2 linked regions of the Homo sapiens genome follow. The protein of the gene in region 2 purifies or fractionates together with the protein of the main gene of each other region. This does not show direct contact. Each region holds a gene or a part of one and is shown on either strand. Other genes may lie near its edges.

The links.
Region 1: the proteins of SORBS1 (region 2) and SH2B2 purify together in Homo sapiens (affinity purification with western blotting; 2 studies listed by BioGRID). This does not show direct contact.

The regions. Positions count from the first base shown.
Region 1 is NC_000007.14:102,288,985-102,298,149, reverse strand, and holds part of SH2B2 (SH2B adapter protein 2), read right to left. Parts: intron 8,685-9,165; exon of another isoform or gene 8,633-8,684; intron 5,048-8,632; exon of another isoform or gene 4,963-5,047; intron 1-4,962. UniProt on the Homo sapiens protein: Adapter protein for several members of the tyrosine kinase receptor family. Involved in multiple signaling pathways. May be involved in coupling from immunoreceptor to Ras signaling. Acts as a negative regulator of cytokine signaling in collaboration with CBL.
Region 2 is NC_000010.11:95,550,232-95,559,396, forward strand, and holds part of SORBS1 (sorbin and SH3 domain-containing protein 1), read right to left. Parts: intron 1-9,165. UniProt on the Homo sapiens protein: Plays a role in tyrosine phosphorylation of CBL by linking CBL to the insulin receptor. Required for insulin-stimulated glucose transport. Involved in formation of actin stress fibers and focal adhesions.

The sequences.
Region 1 (9,165 bases), on a different chromosome or scaffold from region 2:
TCTGACATAATCTGCCTCTGTTTACCCCTCTGGATATACCTCCTGCCACTCTTCCCTGGCTGGACCTGCCTCCTTGCCCTCCCAGAAGCATAGCAGCCAAATTTCTACCTCAGGACCTTTGCACATGCCTGGAATGCTCTTTCCTCCACATTCCCTCACCTTCTTCAGGTTTCTGCTCAACCAATGGCTTGGCGGATAGCCTTCCCTGACCACTCTTGAGAATGACAAATCCCTCTGATGACAATACTCCCTCTGATGCGTTCATGCACTCTGCCTATTTTCACCATTATCCTTATTGCCGGCTGTCATATCATATATTTAGTTGCTTGGTTGTGTGTCCCCTCCACCCCCTTCCCCCGAGAATGCCAGTTTCACAAGGCAGGGATTTTGCCAGTCCTAGAAGCGGCTGTGTCCTCAGTGCTGGGCATACAGCAGGCGCTTGGGAAACACTGACTGAATGAACAAATGAATGAGTTTGGCACACCAGGCATGTCACAGCTGTCACCGCCTAAGCCCTCACTTGGGGCCTAAGGACAAACAGCTTGTTAGTGACAAGACAGGTCCAGGGTTCTCGCCCAGGTCTGCAGTGACTCCAGGACTTGAGGGGTCTCCTCCTAGTGTGGATCAAATATGGTAGTTCCCTCTCGTTCAAGGGGTATATGTCCCAAGAACCCCAGCAGATGCTTGAAACTGGCTAATACTGAACCTCTGTATACTGCGTGTGTGTGTGTGTGTGTGTGTGTGTGTGTGTGTGTAGAGATGGGATCTCACTCTATTGATGAGGCTGGTCTTGAACTCCTGGGTTCAAGCAATCCTCTGGCCTTGGCCTCCCAAAGTGCTGAAATTACAGGCACGAGCCACTTGCACCTGGCCCGCTACATTTTTTTTGGATCTAATAACCCAGACAACTCCTAAGTGGCGAGCGGGTCGTATCCAGAGTGCGGATATGCCAGACAAAGGGATAATTCACATCCCAGGCAGAACAGCGGGATGGTTTGAGACTTCATCCTGCTACTCAGACTGGCCTGCAATTTACATTTGTATTTGTATGTTTACTTCTGGGATTTTCTATTTAATATTTTCAGACCTCTGTTGACCACGGGTATCTGAAGCCTTGGAAAGCAAAGCTGTGGATAAGAACCAAGCGTTTTTTTGTTTTTTGTTTTTTTTTGAGACAGAGTCTTGCAGTGTCTCCCAGGGTGGAGTGCAGTGGCGAGATCACAGTTTACTGCAGCCTCCAACTCCTGGGCTCAAGCGATCCTCCCGCCTCAGCCTTCCGAGTAGCTCAGACTACAGGCAAGAGCTACCATGCCTGGCTAAAGGGACCAAGTTTTTGTACGGACATTGAAGACCTTGCTTCTTTCCATCACAATGGCCTGCACGCTTCTACTTACATTCCCACGTTCTGGAATCTGGCTTCCCCCAGAATTCCCATTCAAATCCGATTTTGAATCCCCAATCCAGGAATCCCAGCTGTCTCCTCACCCCAGCTTCATCCTCTTATTCCCAGGCCCCTCCATCCTTCACAGCTCTGGATGGCTAAACTGCATGGCTTGGGCCCAGCCCATCACCTGGGGGCCTTGCCATTGCCTCTGGGGACACAGGTCCAACCTGCTGTGTGCTTACAGCCCCCATCCAAGCCAGGGGGAAAATTACCAATAGTGATAAAGTGCGGTGATGTAGTGCCTGGGGAGTCCCTGTCTAAGGAGCCGGCTTAGTGTTGGGGGACAAGCGACCATCCTTCCAAGGAAATGAGTTAGAGGATCATGCCCTCGCCTGTCCTCCCAGGGTCCCCACAGTTTCCGGAATGCCCCTCCCTCGCAGCTCCTGGGATCACCATCTCATCTCTCCTCTGGGATCCAAACCATGTAATTAAATGCCAGGTAAAAATAGCTGCCCCATTTCTGTGAGATCATCTGCGAGGCCTCTGGGCCATAGGGCACCGTGGGAATTCCCTCTCTCCTTGGGGCAACCTCGCCATCAATCTGCAGTCAATAACCAAGGGACAGCCCCAGGGACAGAACAGGGCTCCCGGCTGAGCCTGCTTAGCTTCAAGGACAGGTTTCCAAACCAGCGGTCTCCTAGGAGACTCCTGCCTTGGTACTGGGGGAGGGGAGTCGGGAGTTTGGAAGGTTTCCTTCAAGAGGTGGTTATTGCGTTGGGCTTCATGAGTGCAAAGAAAATAAAGAGGGTGCTGGGGGCCTGAACAATGAGTTGGGGGCAGGACTTATCAGGACATTGGCAGTTGGGTAGTGGTGGTGGTGGTTAGAGTTCACGAAGGTGGGGGAAGGATGGGGACTGAGGAACCCACGAGCTTTGCTCATGCCTGACCTTTTCCCTGCCCCGTGCTTCCTCCTTTCTTCCCTAACTCCTACTCACACTTCAATAATTAATCCAGAAGCCACTTCTTCCAGGAAGCCTCCCGACACCCCTCCTTTCTCCCTGATCCAGGCCAGCACAAGTGTCTCCTCTGAGCTCCCACAGTCTCCTCCTGCCTGTCTCTCTTGCATGGTGCCAGTTATAGGGTACTTCAAGTGTCTGTCCTCATGGCTGTCTCCCCATCTGACACAGAGAGTGCGCAGGGCAAAAGTCCAGGCTCCTGGAACTTGCTTCTTCCCTGAGGGGTGGAGACGGGAACACACCTGCCACCACCACCACCACCACCATGGCCTCCAGGGAAGGTCACGAGCCCAGGCCCAGGCCATGACCTGCAGGGGTGGTATTTCCTGGGGTGGGGGTGGGGCCACAGCTGAACCCATGAAACCCTGTCCCTGAGCTCCAAGCCCATCCATTTATCCAGTAGGCTAGTGCTCCTGACGGTGGCCACCTCTCTCTCTATACCATTAGGACCCCCAGGGGGCTCAGAGCCAGTGACTTGGCAGCCTGGGAAGGGTAGGTGTGGGGTCCCTGAGTGAGATGATTATGCCCCCACATGGGGCAGGCAGCGGCAGGCAGGAAGTCAGCCCCAGTGCCGAGTCCTAGACATCAATCCCTGTCGCCCCCAGCTCTTCCTCCTGGCTGGAGGAACCCTTGGTAGGGAGAAGGCACAGAGATGGGGGACAGGGCCCTGGGGGAGGCTCTCGCAGGTGGGTCTCAGGTGGCCCTCACTGGAGTGGGAGTGGAACTTAGAGAGGAATCTTCCAAGGGCATGGCAGGTGTGGCCAGGTCCTAGGCAGGGACTGGCCTGGGAGGCACTGGGAGGTTGGGACTGCCCTGACCTCTCCTACCTAACCCTGCAGGCCACCCAGGAGCCTGTGGGCCTGATGCCTGGCACAGAAGCCCTCAGTAGGTCCAGCCCCGGATGCAGAGGAAGCAGGTTGAGCAGCTAGAGGTATAAGTCTCCAAACAGCAGTGCCAGCAGGGAGGCCCCCACCTGGCTACAGATGGAGAGAGGGAGGCCCGGACATGGTTCTCTGTAGAGGGGAGGCTGCAAGACACAGGGAAGGGGGCCTGGCTGTGGCAGGGGCAGGAGTGCACTGTCCCCACCCATCTTTGGGACCAGAACTGGGGAGGAGACCCCATGTAGGGAGCTTGGCTGACCTGGGCTCAAGACGTGACCCCGTGGGTGCTCCCTGAGTGAGTGACACTGACCACACTCCCAACCTCTGAGCCCACTCTTCTCACTTTCTGACCACTCACTGGCAAGATGGCACAGGAGGTGGTGTCTGCAATGTTATAACCCATGTGCAGGCATGGGCAGGGCGGGAGCTCCTCCAACCTTGGTGCTGCCAAGGTTGGTGTTTCAAGCCCTCTCTAGGGACTTTGCTCTTCCGACTATTCAACATCTCCCCTCCCTTTAGACCGTGCAAAACCCTCTCTTCTGGCTGGATGTGGTGGCTCAAGCCTGTAATCCCAGCACTTTGGGAGGCCGAGGCAGGTAGATCACTTGAGCTCAGGAGTTCGAGAGCAGCCTGGGCAACATGGTGAAACCCCGTCTCTACTAAAAATACAAAAATTAGGCAGGTGTGGTGGCACACGCCTGTAGTCCCAGGTACTTGGGGGACTGAGGCAGGAGGACTTTAACCCAGAAAGTTGAGGCTGCAGTGAGCTGAGATTGCACGACTGCACTCCAGCCTGGGCAACAGAGCGAGACTCTGTCTCAAAAAACCAAACCGAAACAAAACCTTCTCTTCTCCCAGGAAAACTTCCCTATACTGCTCTCCCCCTCTGATCTCCAAGACCCTATGGTCTTTAACTCTCTTGGTGGTCAGCTCTCCTCCTATGGTCCCAAGGTGTCCAAACAGACCAGCTGAGTTGGTGCCAGGCAGTGCTGGACTGGGCTCTGGGAGATCTGGACTCTATCCTGGGCCGGGCCCTGTGTCTCTTGGTGCCTCCACTTCCCTATCAGTAAAATGGGATTGCTGGAGCTGTGTGTGGCTTCTAGGGGCTCCTGATTTTGATGCAGAAGTGATGGCCTTGGACATTGAAGACTGGGCTGTCATTCCATTGGGACTAGGGACAGGTAGGGGGTTGCCTCTCCCCCTCACAGGCTGCTTCTCTGAGGACTGGCGTTGGAGACAAAGGAAGCCCAGCCAGGGCCCCCTGTGGTGCTGGCCCTCCTCGGAGCACTGGGCGGGTAGACCACCCTCCCCCCATCCATTACACCCCCCCACCTCCGGTTTTTCTAGGCTCAGCTGGGCTGTCTGCCTTCTCCTCCTGAAAAAATGTGTTTTTTTTTTCCCCATCTCTGATGGGATGGGGGCTTCAGAGTGGTTTTTGGTGCTGGGGGATGGAGCGAGGAGGGCAGGGGAAGTCTAATGGAGTCCCTGCTCATCGCCTTTCCAGGCCACGGCCTCTCCTAACCCCACGACCAGCAACCCAGACAAGAGACCCCAGCCACCAGCCCGGCTAGACAGTAGGTCCAGCCGGCATGGGGGAGGGGGCGGCGGCTTTCCGGCGGTAAAAATAGCGCTGACAATTGGAGGACCAAAAAAAAAAAAAAAAAAAAAAAGCCGGTCTTCAGCCCCCGCCCGCGCAGCAATTCCGCACCCCAGGGCCGGGTCATTCCTTAAAATATTTATGAGTCGGACTCGCCGCCCCGCCTAATGGGCCCGCGACCAATCGATGCGCGGCACAGTGGGCGGTGGCCCTGGGGGCGGGGAGAGGCAGGAGCCCCGCCCACCTCCAGCTGGCACCCCCCACCTCCTCCCCAGCACCATCCCAGCCACAGGAGGCCAGGAGCACCGGGAAGAGGAGGGATGGTCAGTGGTCCCACAGGTCAAACTAGCTATGCAGCACCTCAAAAGGCTGCGCCCCACTGCCAAGAGACCCCCCCTTCCTCCTGCACCCTCACTTAGCTCCGTCCTCAGAGCAGCAGTCAGAGAACCAAGTGCATGAAGGGGGAGACGGTCAGAACTAAGGGTTCTCTCCTATGTCCTGGGGTGGGCAGTGCCACCTACCCCCCAATGAACCATTCGCTATGGGGAAACTGAGGCCTTTTCTTTTTAGACAAAGTCTCACTCTGTGGCCCAGGCTGGGGTGCAGTGCACTGCACTTTGAACATAGCTCACTGCAGCCTTGAACTCCTGGGCCCAAGCAATTCTCCTGCCTCAGCCTCCCAAGTGGCTGGGACTACAGGCACAAGACGCCATGGCCAGGTAATTTTTTTTTTTTTTTTTTGAGACGGAGTCTTGCTCTGTTGCCGAGGCTGGAGTGCAATGGCGTGATCTTGGCTCACTGCAACTTCCGCCTCCTGGGTTCAAGCGATTCTCCTGCCTCAGCCTCCCGAGTAGCTGGGACTATAGGTGCGTCCTACCAAGCCCGGCTAATTTTTGTATTTTTAGGAGAGGCAGGGTTTCACCATCTTGGCCAGGCTGGTCTCGAACTTCCGACCTCAGGTGATCCGCCCACCTCAGCTTCCCAAAGGGCTGGGATTATAGATGTGAGCCAGTGCACCCGGTCCCAGGTAATTTTTTGATATTTTGGTAGAGATGGGGGTCTCACTATGTTGCCCAGGCTGGTCTCATGCAGCCTCTTCTTGGGGTACCTCCTTGCCTGACACAAGAGACAAGGCCTCACTCTGCTCACCTCCACCATCCTCAGAAAACCTGCCCAGCCATGCCTTCTCATGTCCACTGCCCTTAGGGGTCCTCAGGACCTTAGCAGCACTGGCCTGGCCCACTCAGCCTCACTCTGGACAACATAGGCTCCTTCAATCCTGCTGTTCCTCAAGCACCCTCCTGGCCTCGGTGGGGCAGTCCCTTCCACCCCTGCAGCCTCCTCTCTGCACCCCTCCCTGGGCAGGACACAGATGCTCTTTGGGCAGGTCATCCCTCCGGCCTGGAGTGACTCCCACCCGCTGACTAGGTATGAGTCTCTCTCTCCCCTGCAGATTCAGGAACACAGCACACAGCGCAGTCTCTGCTTCACTGCTGAATACGTGGGCGTTGGTTTTCAAGCCCGTGTTACTGCTCACCTCCGCAGAGACCACATCCCCACAAGGTAGGCTCTGAACCAGGGCCTCCTGCCAGATGTGGCTGGAATTCCCCAACTCTCCCCTCCCAGAATATCTGAGCTCACTCCACCACCCCGGCAGAAGGCAAAGTAGGCATGGCTTCTGGTCTTAACTTAACCCTTGAACTTGCTGTGACTTTGCTGCAGAGTGGATGGGTGGGGGCCTTCTGGCTGGCGATGGGGACAGGTGTGGATTCAGAGCCCTTGGGACTTGTATGCCTCTGTATGGGTGATTAGGTACTAGTGGTCTTGGCTGTTCTGAGCATTAGTTTCCCTAGCTGCTCTTCCGTGCAGATAACTTTCTAGTCCAAGGCTCGGCCTGAGCAGCATCGCTTGGAGGCAGCTATTGCAACAGCCCTGCACCCAGGACAACCCCAGGCCTCTCATGCCACGCTCAGCCTTTGCCACCGCCACGGGAGGGTGGGAGCCCTTCTGCTGAGCCCCCCGGCTTTTGCAGACATCCCAAGCTTGACAAGCCCTGCTGGCACCGGCGTCTGCAGACCCTCAGTCCCAGGGGTTCCCACAGTTGCCTTTGACAGTTGTTCCCCAGCAAAGGGAGCCCCACTGCCTGGGCATCTCCCTATGGCCACCTCTGGTCATTTGACATGCTGGGACAGTGTTAAAAGTCTGAGATCTGGAGCCAGACTGTCTGGGTTTGGATCCCAGCTGCCTTGCTACCCAGTGAAATGACCCCTTGGACTCTGGAGCCTCAGTTTCCCCATCTGTTAAGATGGAGGTGACAGCAGTGCTAAACTTAAGGGGCTGTCATGAAGATTAAATAAGCAATTTGTTTAAAAATCACAGCTCTATTCATTCCCTTTTCCTCCAACTGCTCTTGGCAGGCAGCTGCAGAGGTACCCACTGCCCCAACACATAAACCCAGCCTCCAATGTGGCCAAGGTCAGCGTTCTAGAACCCACATTTCAGTGGGCCATGCCCCTGTTAAAACCCTTCTCCCCTCACATCTTCCCTGTAAGAAAGAGTTGTTTCTCCATTGCAGAGATGAAGAAATGGGGTTCTGGGGAGGGAGGTGACTACCCACCATGCTCTGGCCACCACGCAGTGGTGAGCTCCCACTGTGTGTCAGACGCCAGGTGGGAGGGTCCAGGGCTGCAGAATGGACAAGAGGGGAGGCCGGGTGCAGTGGCTCACACCTGTAATCCCAGCACTTTGGGAGGCCGAGGAGGGCGGATCACTTGAGGTCAGGAGTTTGAGACCAGTCTGGCCAACACGGTGAAACCCCATCTCTACTAAAAATACAAAAATTAGCCAGGCGTGGTGGTGCACACCTGTAACCCCAGCTACTCAGAAGGCTGAGGCATGAGAATTGCTTGAACCCCAGAGGTGGTGGAGGTTGCAGGGAGCGGAGGTTGCAGGGAGCTGAGGTTGCACGCCACTGCACTCCAGCCTGGTCGACAGAGCAAGACTCTGTCTCAAAAAAATAAAAAAAAAAAAGGGGGGTATGGAGCCAAGTTCCAGGCTGGTCCCTTTCTGAGACCTGTTTCTGGGGAACTCCGCTTCCAAGGGCAGAGTGGGAAGACTGAATCCCTGTTTCAGGAAAGGAAATGACCACCTTTAGAGGATGGGGCACTCTGAGCGGCTGGGTGGGGGGGCGGGGGAATCCACAGCTGGGCTCTGCAGGAAGTGCGGGTCAGATAAGCAGGGAGTGGGGGCCAGGACAACAAGCTAAGCCAGGGCCTGTGGGCTCAAGAGGCAGACTCAGCCTCCTTCAGGAGCACCCAGTGCTGGACAGTTCCTGGATGGGCTCTGCAGGTGGAGGACAGGCTGAGCTGGTTCCAGCTGCACTGGCCCTGGTTACTCCCACCCCACCCTGCCTTTCTGGGGTTGCAGAGCAGAGGTTCCCCCCTCCCATCTCCAGCCTTGGCCTGAGACACTCAGCCCCTTCCACTCCCCCAGTGTCATAACTCTCACATGGGCCCTGGCCCAGCCCCCTAAACCTGCAGGATACCCCCTTAGTGCCCCTCACCAACTCATCCCACCCAGCTGCCTTCTGGCTTTTCCAGGACACTCATACCAGTGCCTCCTGAGACCTCTGGTGGCACCCCTAAGATCTGAGCATCCCCGAACTCTGGAGACTACAGGTGCTAATAAAGCTTCCCTGGGCCTTTCTCTGAGCTCAACTCCCAGCCTGGCTGATCTCCAGGTACCTCAAACTCACCACATCCAAGTTCAAATACATCCTCTTCCTCCAACTCCTGCCTGTCCTCTGCACAGAGCCTCAGCACCCAGCTGGGCACTGCCTACTTCCCCTGTTCTGCCCCAATAGCAGGCAGGCCCCCAAGCCCACAGAGGCCTCGGGAACGCCCCTTGATCCTCTTCCCACCTCCACCCTTGCCCCCTGCCCCTCCACCACACCACATGGCTGTGGCCTGTCTCTTCCACCGAACCGTGAGCTCCTGGCTGGTTGTCCTCCCCACCCCCCAGGTGGGCGCTACCCTCAGATGGCCCGGAAGTATGTGGAGAATGGGGCCCAAACCCTGCTTCACCCAGAGGAACCAAAAGATGCTGCACGCCCACACAGCGATGCCCTGCCTTGCTCTGCCCAAACAGGTGTGGGCTGTGACCTCGTGTTGAGGGGTCACACCTGCTATCCCCCTAGACAGAGCATAGCCATAAAACGGCACCCAGCCAGGTGAGCAGGGAAGAGAAACCTCCCCAGGCCCCAGGGCTCTGACCAGTCCCCTGGCCTCA
Region 2 (9,165 bases):
CCAAAACAAACATACATACAAAACACCACAGTGGCTGCCTTAGAAGAGACACGTAGAGAATCCTAGCACCGTGGCTTGCACACAGCAGGTGCTCAATGCAGAGAACTGAATCAAACCTTGACCAACATCTCATTTTAAGGCTGGGAAAACCAAGGCCCAGATAGGTTAAGGGACTTCTCAAAGTGACTCAGGTAGTTACTGACAGGGCTGAAGACAGCAACACTCTGTAACACTGTCTCCCTCCCAGTGCGTCTTATCCTCCACTGCATGGGGAGAATAGGCAGGATCTGCTGCCTATTATTATGTCTATCTCAGAATAAGCGACGGATTTATTTTTGCAACACTGTATGTTTGGGTGTCTTGAAATCTGATGACTAAATGTACGCATATCATCCTAGGAACGGGCTTTCAATCATTTAACAAACACTTCTTGAGAATATACTCTATATCAGGCACAAATTTAAGTGTGTGAATGAAGAAATGAAACAAACTTTTGGTCAAATCAGAGAGCTGAACACCCATGTTTATCTCTGCTCTCTTCTGGACTCCCACTAAAAGGACAGTAGACGGATGCATTTCTTAATGAAAAAAGAGACCCCAGCAGATGAGATATGTCAACAGCAGTGGAGAGCTGACCACCATGCAGTAGCTGATTTAGGTTTCCGCATTGTCTGCTCTGCTAAGTGCAAGCAGAGCAGGAGCCACTAAACAAGTGCCCAACTCATGGCACAGAACACAAAGACAGTTCAGGAAGTGGAGGCACCAAGGACTCTAAAGGGAAAAGCAGGGTAAAGCTAAAAAGAAGGGTGCCTGCCTGCAAGTTGGTACAAAGAGCAGTCAGACCCAGGGTCCCTCTTGCAGTCTGCTCAGCCTGGTGATTTCCCTGCCTCAGCTAGCAGAAGGTGGAGATCCACTGATCAGGTAACTTACACCAGAGATACAGCCAAGGGAGGGACACAGCTGAGGGAGGTAGAGAGATGGGAGAGAGGGATGGCAGGTGGGGGCAACTTTCAAAAGACCCAGGGATTGAGTGAAAGTCTGCATATCAAACAGACTAATACCTAGCCCCTTTCCCCATGGAGGCTCCCAGAATGCAGGAAGGCCAGGCTGTTTACCACCCCACCCCACCCTACCCCACACCCAGGTAAAATCCTCTCCAAGAAAGCCCTATCCAGGAAAGCCCCAGGAAAAAGATCTACCGGCGCTGATATCTAGGCTGCTCCAGTAGAGAAAAAGGGGGCTCTCTGCTGGGTCACTCTACAATGAAGTTAACGACTCCCTTCCTTGTGGCACTGATGCCCAATCAGCATTTCGGTGTCCATTCTTAAAATATACATAGACAGTCAAGGATCAGCATGCATGGAAGGATAGCTGCAATGGAAGATACAGTAACCAAAACAAATGGAAAAAGGGACTTGGAAGAAACAACATCTTCCAAGGGACAGCAGGGAACAGCAGAAAACCATAAAAAAAACAAAAACAAACAAACAAAACCCTTAATATAAAGGAATTTACTGTACCCATGAAACAAGAATAGAATGTCATCTAAAAAAGAAAAGCAAGTATTCAGAGAACTAGGGAGCTCTTACAAAGTAAAACATGCAAATATGTTCCACGTAAACACATGAAAGCACAGTTAAAAATGGAAAAGAGTTGAAGATAAAGCTGAAGATAGCTCTCTGAAAGACAAAAATATAATAAAATGAAAAAAGGAAATAAAATGTTTTAAAATTATAAACTTGCTCCAGGAAGTCCAACATTCAGCTAATAGGCATGCCAAAGACAAAACACAGAAAATGGAGAAAATGAAATTATTAAAATATATCTAATTAAGAAAATTTCCCCAAACTGAAAGACGTCAATCTTCAGATCAAAAAGGCACACACCGGCTGGACGCAGTGGCTCACACCCGTAATCCCAGCATTTTGGGAGCCCGTGGCGGGTGGATCACCTGAGGTCTGGAATTTGAGACCAGCCTGGCCAACGTGGTGAAACCCCCATCTCTACTAACAATGCAAAAATTAGCTGGGCGTGGTGGCATGCGCCTGTAATCCCAGATACTTGGGAGGCTAAGGCACGAGAATCGCTTGAACCCGGGAGGCGGAGGTTGCAGTGAGCCGAGATTGCACCACTGCACTCCAGCCTGGGCAACAGAGTGAGACTCCATCTCAAAAAAAAAAAAAAAAAAGGCCCACACCAAAGACCCAGGCCAATCATTTTTAAAGCAAGGAGATTTCAAATACAGGAAAAGAGAGAAGATCCCAAAAACTTTCAGTGAGAAATCAGGTTATCCATAAATGATCAAGAATCAGAATGGTATCCGAATTTTGATACCAATATTAGAACCTAGATGACAGTGGAATGATGGCTTCAAAATTCTAAGGGAAATGGCTTTCGACTTCAAATTCTAGATGAATCAAATCACCAATCGAATATGAATGTAGAATATGAACATTTTCAGACCTGTAAGCTTAAAGTGATCAACTTCCACAGACCCTCTCTCAGAAACTTGTGGAAGAATAAATCAACAAAGGAAACAGGATCCCACCCAGGATAAGGTGAGGGAATTCCCAGGATGAGTCATGCCACAGGCCTAGAGGTCAATGGGCAAGAACAAAGGAGACAGAATGGAGGCCTATAGGAGGGAAGTCTCCAAGCGGGCGTAAAAAAAAAAAAACAGTAATAAAATAAAAAGGAACAAGCGCAGGCACGGTGGCTCATGCCTGTAATCCTAGCACTTTGAGAAGTTGAGGAGGGAGGATTGTTTGAGGGCAGGAGTTAGAGACCAGCCTAGGCAATGTAGTGAAACCCCATCTCTACCAAAAAACTTTAAAAATTAGCTGGACATGGTGGTGCCTGTAGTCCTAGCTACTCAGGAGGCTGAGGCAGGAGGATCACTTGAGCCCAGGAGGTCAAGGCTGCAATGAGCTACAATCGCACCTCTGCACTCTAGCCTGGTGGACAGAGCAAGGCCCTATCTCAATAAATAAATAAATAAATAGGAACACATGTTATAAAACAAATGTCTTAAGATGCTGTCAAATACTTTGAGAATTAGCAATAAGTACATAGAAACTAAGTAAATAGAAAATGTAAGATAATTATTAACTCAAAAAATGTACAAGAAAGAAAATATTATAGTATACTATATGGCTCTGTCATGAACACTATTTACACAGCCAAAATAATGTAAGCACCAAATATCAATGTAATCAAAAACTGTGATATATCTATAATGAGAGGATAGGGAGAAAGGGAAGTATTGGGGGGCAGAGGAGAGGATCTAATCCATAGTAAGACATCAAGACATAACATCTAAAAGTAACCTCTAAGCTGGGCATGGTGACTCACACCTGTAATCCCAGAACTTTAGGAGGCCCAGGTAGGAGGAGTGCTTCAGGCCAGGAGTTAAAGTCCACCCTGGCCTCAAGCAGGGTCTCAACATAGCAAGACCCTGTCTCTACAAAAAGAAAAATAAGGAAAAATAAAAATAACATCTAAAATGGACAATCAGAAAACAGCATTGTAAGCAGGTAACAATAAATATGATAGTAATATCAGGAGAAACAGCTCAGTGCATTAGAAGTAACTGTTGTAAACAGAGTAACAGCAGCCCCTCAAGGATGTCTATATCCTAACTGCCATGCCTGGCTAATTCTTTGTATTTTTTGCAGAGATAAGGTTTTACTATGTTGGCCAGGCTGATCTTGAACTCCTGGCCTTAAGTGATCCGCCGGCCTCAGCCTCCCAAACTGCTACGATTACAGGAATGAGCCACTGCGCCCAGGCAGCCTTTATATTTTTCTAGTAGTATTGACTTTTTTTTTTTTTTTTTTTTGAGAGGGAGTCTGGCTCTGTTGCCCAGGCTGGAGTGCAGTGGCACAATCTCAGCTCGCTGCAACTTCCGCCTCCCTGGTTCAAGTGATTCTCCTGCCTCAGCCTCCAGATTAACTGGGATTACAGGCGCCCGCCACCGTGACTGGCTAATTTTTGTATTTTTTTAGTAGAGATGGGATTTTGCCATGTTGGCCAGGCTGGTCTCAAACTCCTGACCTCAGGTGATCCGCCCACCTCAGCCTCCCAAAGTGCTGGGATTACAGGCGTGAGCCACCACACCCAGCCTATTTGTCTTTCAAAACTCTGTGCGGGGTGGGGGTGCACAGTGGCTCAGGCCTGTAATCCCAGCACTTAGGGAGGCCAAGACAGGCAGATCACTTGAGGTCAGGAGTTCGAGACCAGCCTGGCCAACACTGTGAAACCCTGTCTCTACTAATAATAAAAAAATTAGCTGGGGGGGTGGTGGTCTCCTGTAGTCCCAGATACTAGGGAGGCTGAGGCAGGAGAATCGCTTGAACCCGGGAGGTAGAGGTTGCAGTGAGCTGAGATCATGCCACTGCACTCCAGCCTAAGCAACAGAGGGAGACTCTGTCTCAAAACAAACAAAAAAGAAACTCTCTGTGTACACACACACACACACACACACACACGCGAAAGTTTTATACAAATTAAAATTTAATTTAAAAAGAGAAGAAACACAGACTCACTCTATTCCCAGAACTCACAATATGGGGGAGGAAACAGACAAGGGAACCAGCAATATCAACAGAAGTAGAAAGCTGAACACAAGAAGAAAGGCATCTCTTTTTTTGTTTGTTTTTTTTTTTTTTGAGATGGAGTTTCGCTCTTGTTACCCAGGCTGGAGTGCAATGGCGTGATCTCGGCTCACTGCAACCTCTACCTTCCGGGTTCAAGTGACTCTCCTGCCTAAGCCTCCTGAGTAGCTGGGACTACAGGCATGCGCCACCACGCCCGGCTAATTTTTTGTACTTTTAGTAGAGAGGAGGTTTCACCATGTTGGCCAGGCTGGTCGCGAACTCCTGACCTCAGGTGATCCACCTGCCTCGGCCTCCCAAAGTGCTGGGATTACAGCTACCGCGCCCAGCTGAAAGGCATCTCTTTAAGATGTGAGGGGAGTCTGAGGGGAGAAGGCATCAGCCAGGAAACGCAGAAAAAGGCCTTCTGGTGAGGGAACCAGTCCTGGTGGGGGGTGCAGGGGGGCCTGGCCTTTGGGGACGTGGAGTAGGGAATGACCGGGCATCTGGTGGTTTGGCAGAGCCAGCAGGAAAGCATGGAGGGGTGGTTCTCAGCACCAGCAGGTTTGATGCCTACCCTATCCCCGGCTTCTCCAGTTGGGGTATGAGACTGATATGCATATTTACAGAGGGCTGGTACAAATGAGGGCCCACAATAAACACATTTTCGTAGAACGTCAATTGTATTCAACAGTAAAGCAACTTAAATACTTTTATACTAAAACCAGTACACATATATTACAGAGAATACAAACCTAATGTGACAAGGTGACTTCTTGTTTGCAAGGCCCACTTTAGATACTAAAGTACTTGCTGACCACTGAGCATCAAGAGTCAATCCTCTCTGTAACTAATTAGAGTCAGAAGAAAATCATAAAGCGGTACAGCATCCATCCATCAAAGAATCCGGGAACTTTACACCAGCAACTGTCGGTGGGTGCCCACCCTCCCAAGGTGGGCAGAAGACATACCTTGGGTCCCACTCAACACTAATCAGAAAGTTAACAAGCATCTCATTCTTTTCCAAAAGGGTCTGGGTCCTGCTACAGCCAGTTAGGTTAGCTCAGCCTGAGGAAACAGAGAAAACAACGATGCTAATTCTTCCTAGATATACTCTCTAGGCCATAGCCCGCCAGCCCCTATTCTAAGCAGTACCGCAGTCACTGAGAAGAGCCCCACCTCCACTATCAGCACCCCTAACCCCTTACAGTACAGGCCTCTGTTACAGAATGCATTAAAGACACTTTTTCCATGGAAGGAAGTCTAGAAACAGGGTACATCCCTTGAGAGAGGGTGTCCCTTGTGGTCCACAATACAAGGGTGGAAACTTTTTTCTATTGTTGTGAAAACAATAACCGCATGACAGAGACCTGGGAACTTTTTTTTCTATAAAAAGCCACTGCTGACCACAGAAGAAGTGGGGGGATAAATCAATGGAAGGCCACACAGAAGTAAAAAGCAATTTAGTTGGATTTGGTTCATTTGCCTCTTTTTTGTTTTGTGTGTAAAACACATACACATTCAAAAAAGACTGAATTCAACTGATTTTATTTATTTATTTATTTGGATGGAGTCTCACTCTGTCCCCCAGGCTGGAGTGCAGTGGTACAATCTCGGCTCACTGCAACCTCCACCTCCCAGGCTCAAGCAATTCTTTCTGCCTCAGCCTCCTGAGTAGCTGGGATTACAGGCACCCATCACCACACCCAGCTAATTTTTGTCTTTTTTTTTTTTTTTTTTTTTTGAGACGGAGTCTTGCTATGTCGCCCAGGCTGGGGTGCAGTGGCGCGATCTTGGCTCACTGCAAGCTCCGCCTCCCAGGTTCATGCCATTCTCCTGCCTCAGCTTCCCGAGTAGCTGGGACTACAGGTGCCTGCCACCACACCCGGCTAAATTTTTGTATTTTTAGTAGAGACGGGGTTTCACCATGTTGACCAGGCTGGTCTTGAACTCCTGACGTCAGGTGATCCACCTGCTTCAGCCTCCCAAAGTGCTCGGATAACAGGCATGAGCTACCTTGCCTGGCCCTCGACTGATTTGAAATGAAGAACAGAGAACATGAAATTTTAATGGCAATAGATTAAAAGAAACTACAAAGATATATTGTTGATAATAAAGAAAGAATGAGGGAGGAGGGCAAGGAGAAAGAGGTAAGAAAAAGAAATGGATAGTGGAGGGAGATGTAGCAAAAGAAGAATGGGAGACAGCAAGATTCAGGGACGGGTCCACATGCCTAACCGCACACAAAAAGGGGGAGCCACCAAAGGACCCACAGAGACACTTTCTAGGGCTTGAAGAGTTAGCCAAAGTCAGTTACATTGTTCATGGCCAGCTGTTGGCTGTAGCTCCAGACCTTGAACTATTATCACCTTTTATCCTTGCCTTTGAATGGTTAGTGCTCTGGTCAACCACTGTTCACAGCTCTTTAATTGCTCATTGAAACATTCTGAGGCTTAGCTTAGGTCACAAGCCAGAAGCTCCCCCAAATGAGCTACAATTCAGTAAATCATTCATCTCCAAGTATCTCCTCTGAAAAGGGAGTATTCGAAACACTATCTCATAAAACATTCAAAGCACCGATGAAAATCCAAGGAGAAAATGCTGCTTGCACTGAAACGAAATCCATGGAAAAGTGTTCTGAGTTTTGCATTTACAAAAAAACCGGGACTTCAGCAGAACTGAGTCCCACCTCAGCATCAGCCAGCATCACCACCCGCACACCTGACTTCCCACATGTCCACATTCTGCATGCTCCCGTGGATCTAAAGGCCTCAGTTGGTCCTGAAACTAAGCAGCCTCCATGACACTTTGCAATCTGAGGGTCAACAGGAGCAATCCCAAGGAGATTCCAAGACAGTCTCAGGCTGAGGTTGAACTCTCAGTCCACCCCCCCACCCCCCATCCTAGGCTACCAAACCTCCCCTCACTTCACCCCAAGGGCTGCAGAAGAGCTCAGCTGTTTCAGAGACAATAGAGCCTCCCCCTTTCAAGCTCCATCCTTTTCTCCTCCAAGCTTGGTTTCTGTGTTTTTCCCTTCCCCACATAATCTGTCCCCAGCCTCCTACTTTCTCGTCTGTTTCTCCAATCTCTCTCTTCTTGTGCTCCTATTTCCTCCTCATGTTTCGCTATTCCATCTTAGAATCATTTCTCTCAGAGGAAGAGGGGGCTTAACAGATACATATAGGCCGGGCACCGTGGCTCAAGCCTATAACCCCAGCATGCTGGAAGGCCAATGCAGGCGGATCGCTTGAGTCCAGGAGTTTGAGACCAGCCTGGGCAACACCGCAAAACTCTGTCTCTACAAAAAGTACAAAAATTAGCTGGGTGTGGTAGTGCGTGCCTGTGGTCCCAGCTACTCGGGAGGCTGAGGTAGGAGGACTGCCTGGGCCCAGGAGGTCGAGGCTGCAGTGAGCCATGATTGTGCCACTGCACTCCAGCCTGGGTGACAGGTGAGACCCTGTCTCAAAACAACCACCACCACCAAAAAACAAAAAAACCCAGATACATCTGGAAACAAGATCTACAATCTATCCCCCCGAGTTCCCACCCCAGCTCCACATCTTGCTAGCTGTGCAACCTTGGAAAAATGGCCAAACCTCCCAACCCCTCAAATTCCTCAGTTTGGCGGGGAAGGGGGAGGAACATGGCAATCACAGAGGTCTTTTATAACTCTCATCTTCTAGATAGGTAAACGTTCACCTGTGTAACCATGAATAAACCAGCAAGTTAAACATCCACAGGGAAAGAGAACAAATTACAGAAACTCCCTTTCCTCAGCAATCTATCATCCCACCCTCATCTCCCACAACCACTCACTCTGGGGTCTGTGCCTCTCACTCTGGACCGTTCTAGCTCTGAATTGTTTACATACTTACAGTAAAACCTCACAAATCACACTAATCAAGGAAAAGGTAGATGTGAATCCAACAGAAGCCTGCATCCTAGAATGCTTCTTCTATGCCATTGTGCAATACTTTGAATTTATTATCAATTTAGCAAACAGGAAAGAACCTGAAAATGCCATCACAAACTGTGACTCTAAGAACAGTGGAGTTGTCAGGAACCCTGGAAGACCTTCTGCCCTATCATCCTCCACTTCACCAGCAAGGACACAGGCCCAGAGAGCAGAAGCCACTAGCCCAAAGCCCAAAGATTGGTGGCCAGGACCAAAGCTAGCTGTCCTGCCTCTGGTCCAGAGCTTCTCCACCAAAGCTTTTTGAGACCATCCATGCCTTTCTCCTAGAGACAGGTCAAATCCTAAATTACCATAGAGTGCCCTCTACAGCAAATCTATCTCCACATCCAGGGAAGGGTCTGGAGATAAGTTAGGATGACCTGATCATTATCAATGCTGCACAATAAAAACTTTCTTTCCTGGCCCTGCCCTTTCATTGTTTACAAAGAAAACCCTAGACTCTGCTATCTGTATTGAACTCTTATTTTAGAGAAGGGGAAAGAGAGGAACAGCTGAACAGTGCTTTGTTCTGCCAGGAAGAATTTGCTCATCCTTTCCCATAACTCCTACCCACTCCCCAATATGCCCAATCTCTTCCGAAAAGTATACAGAAACTCT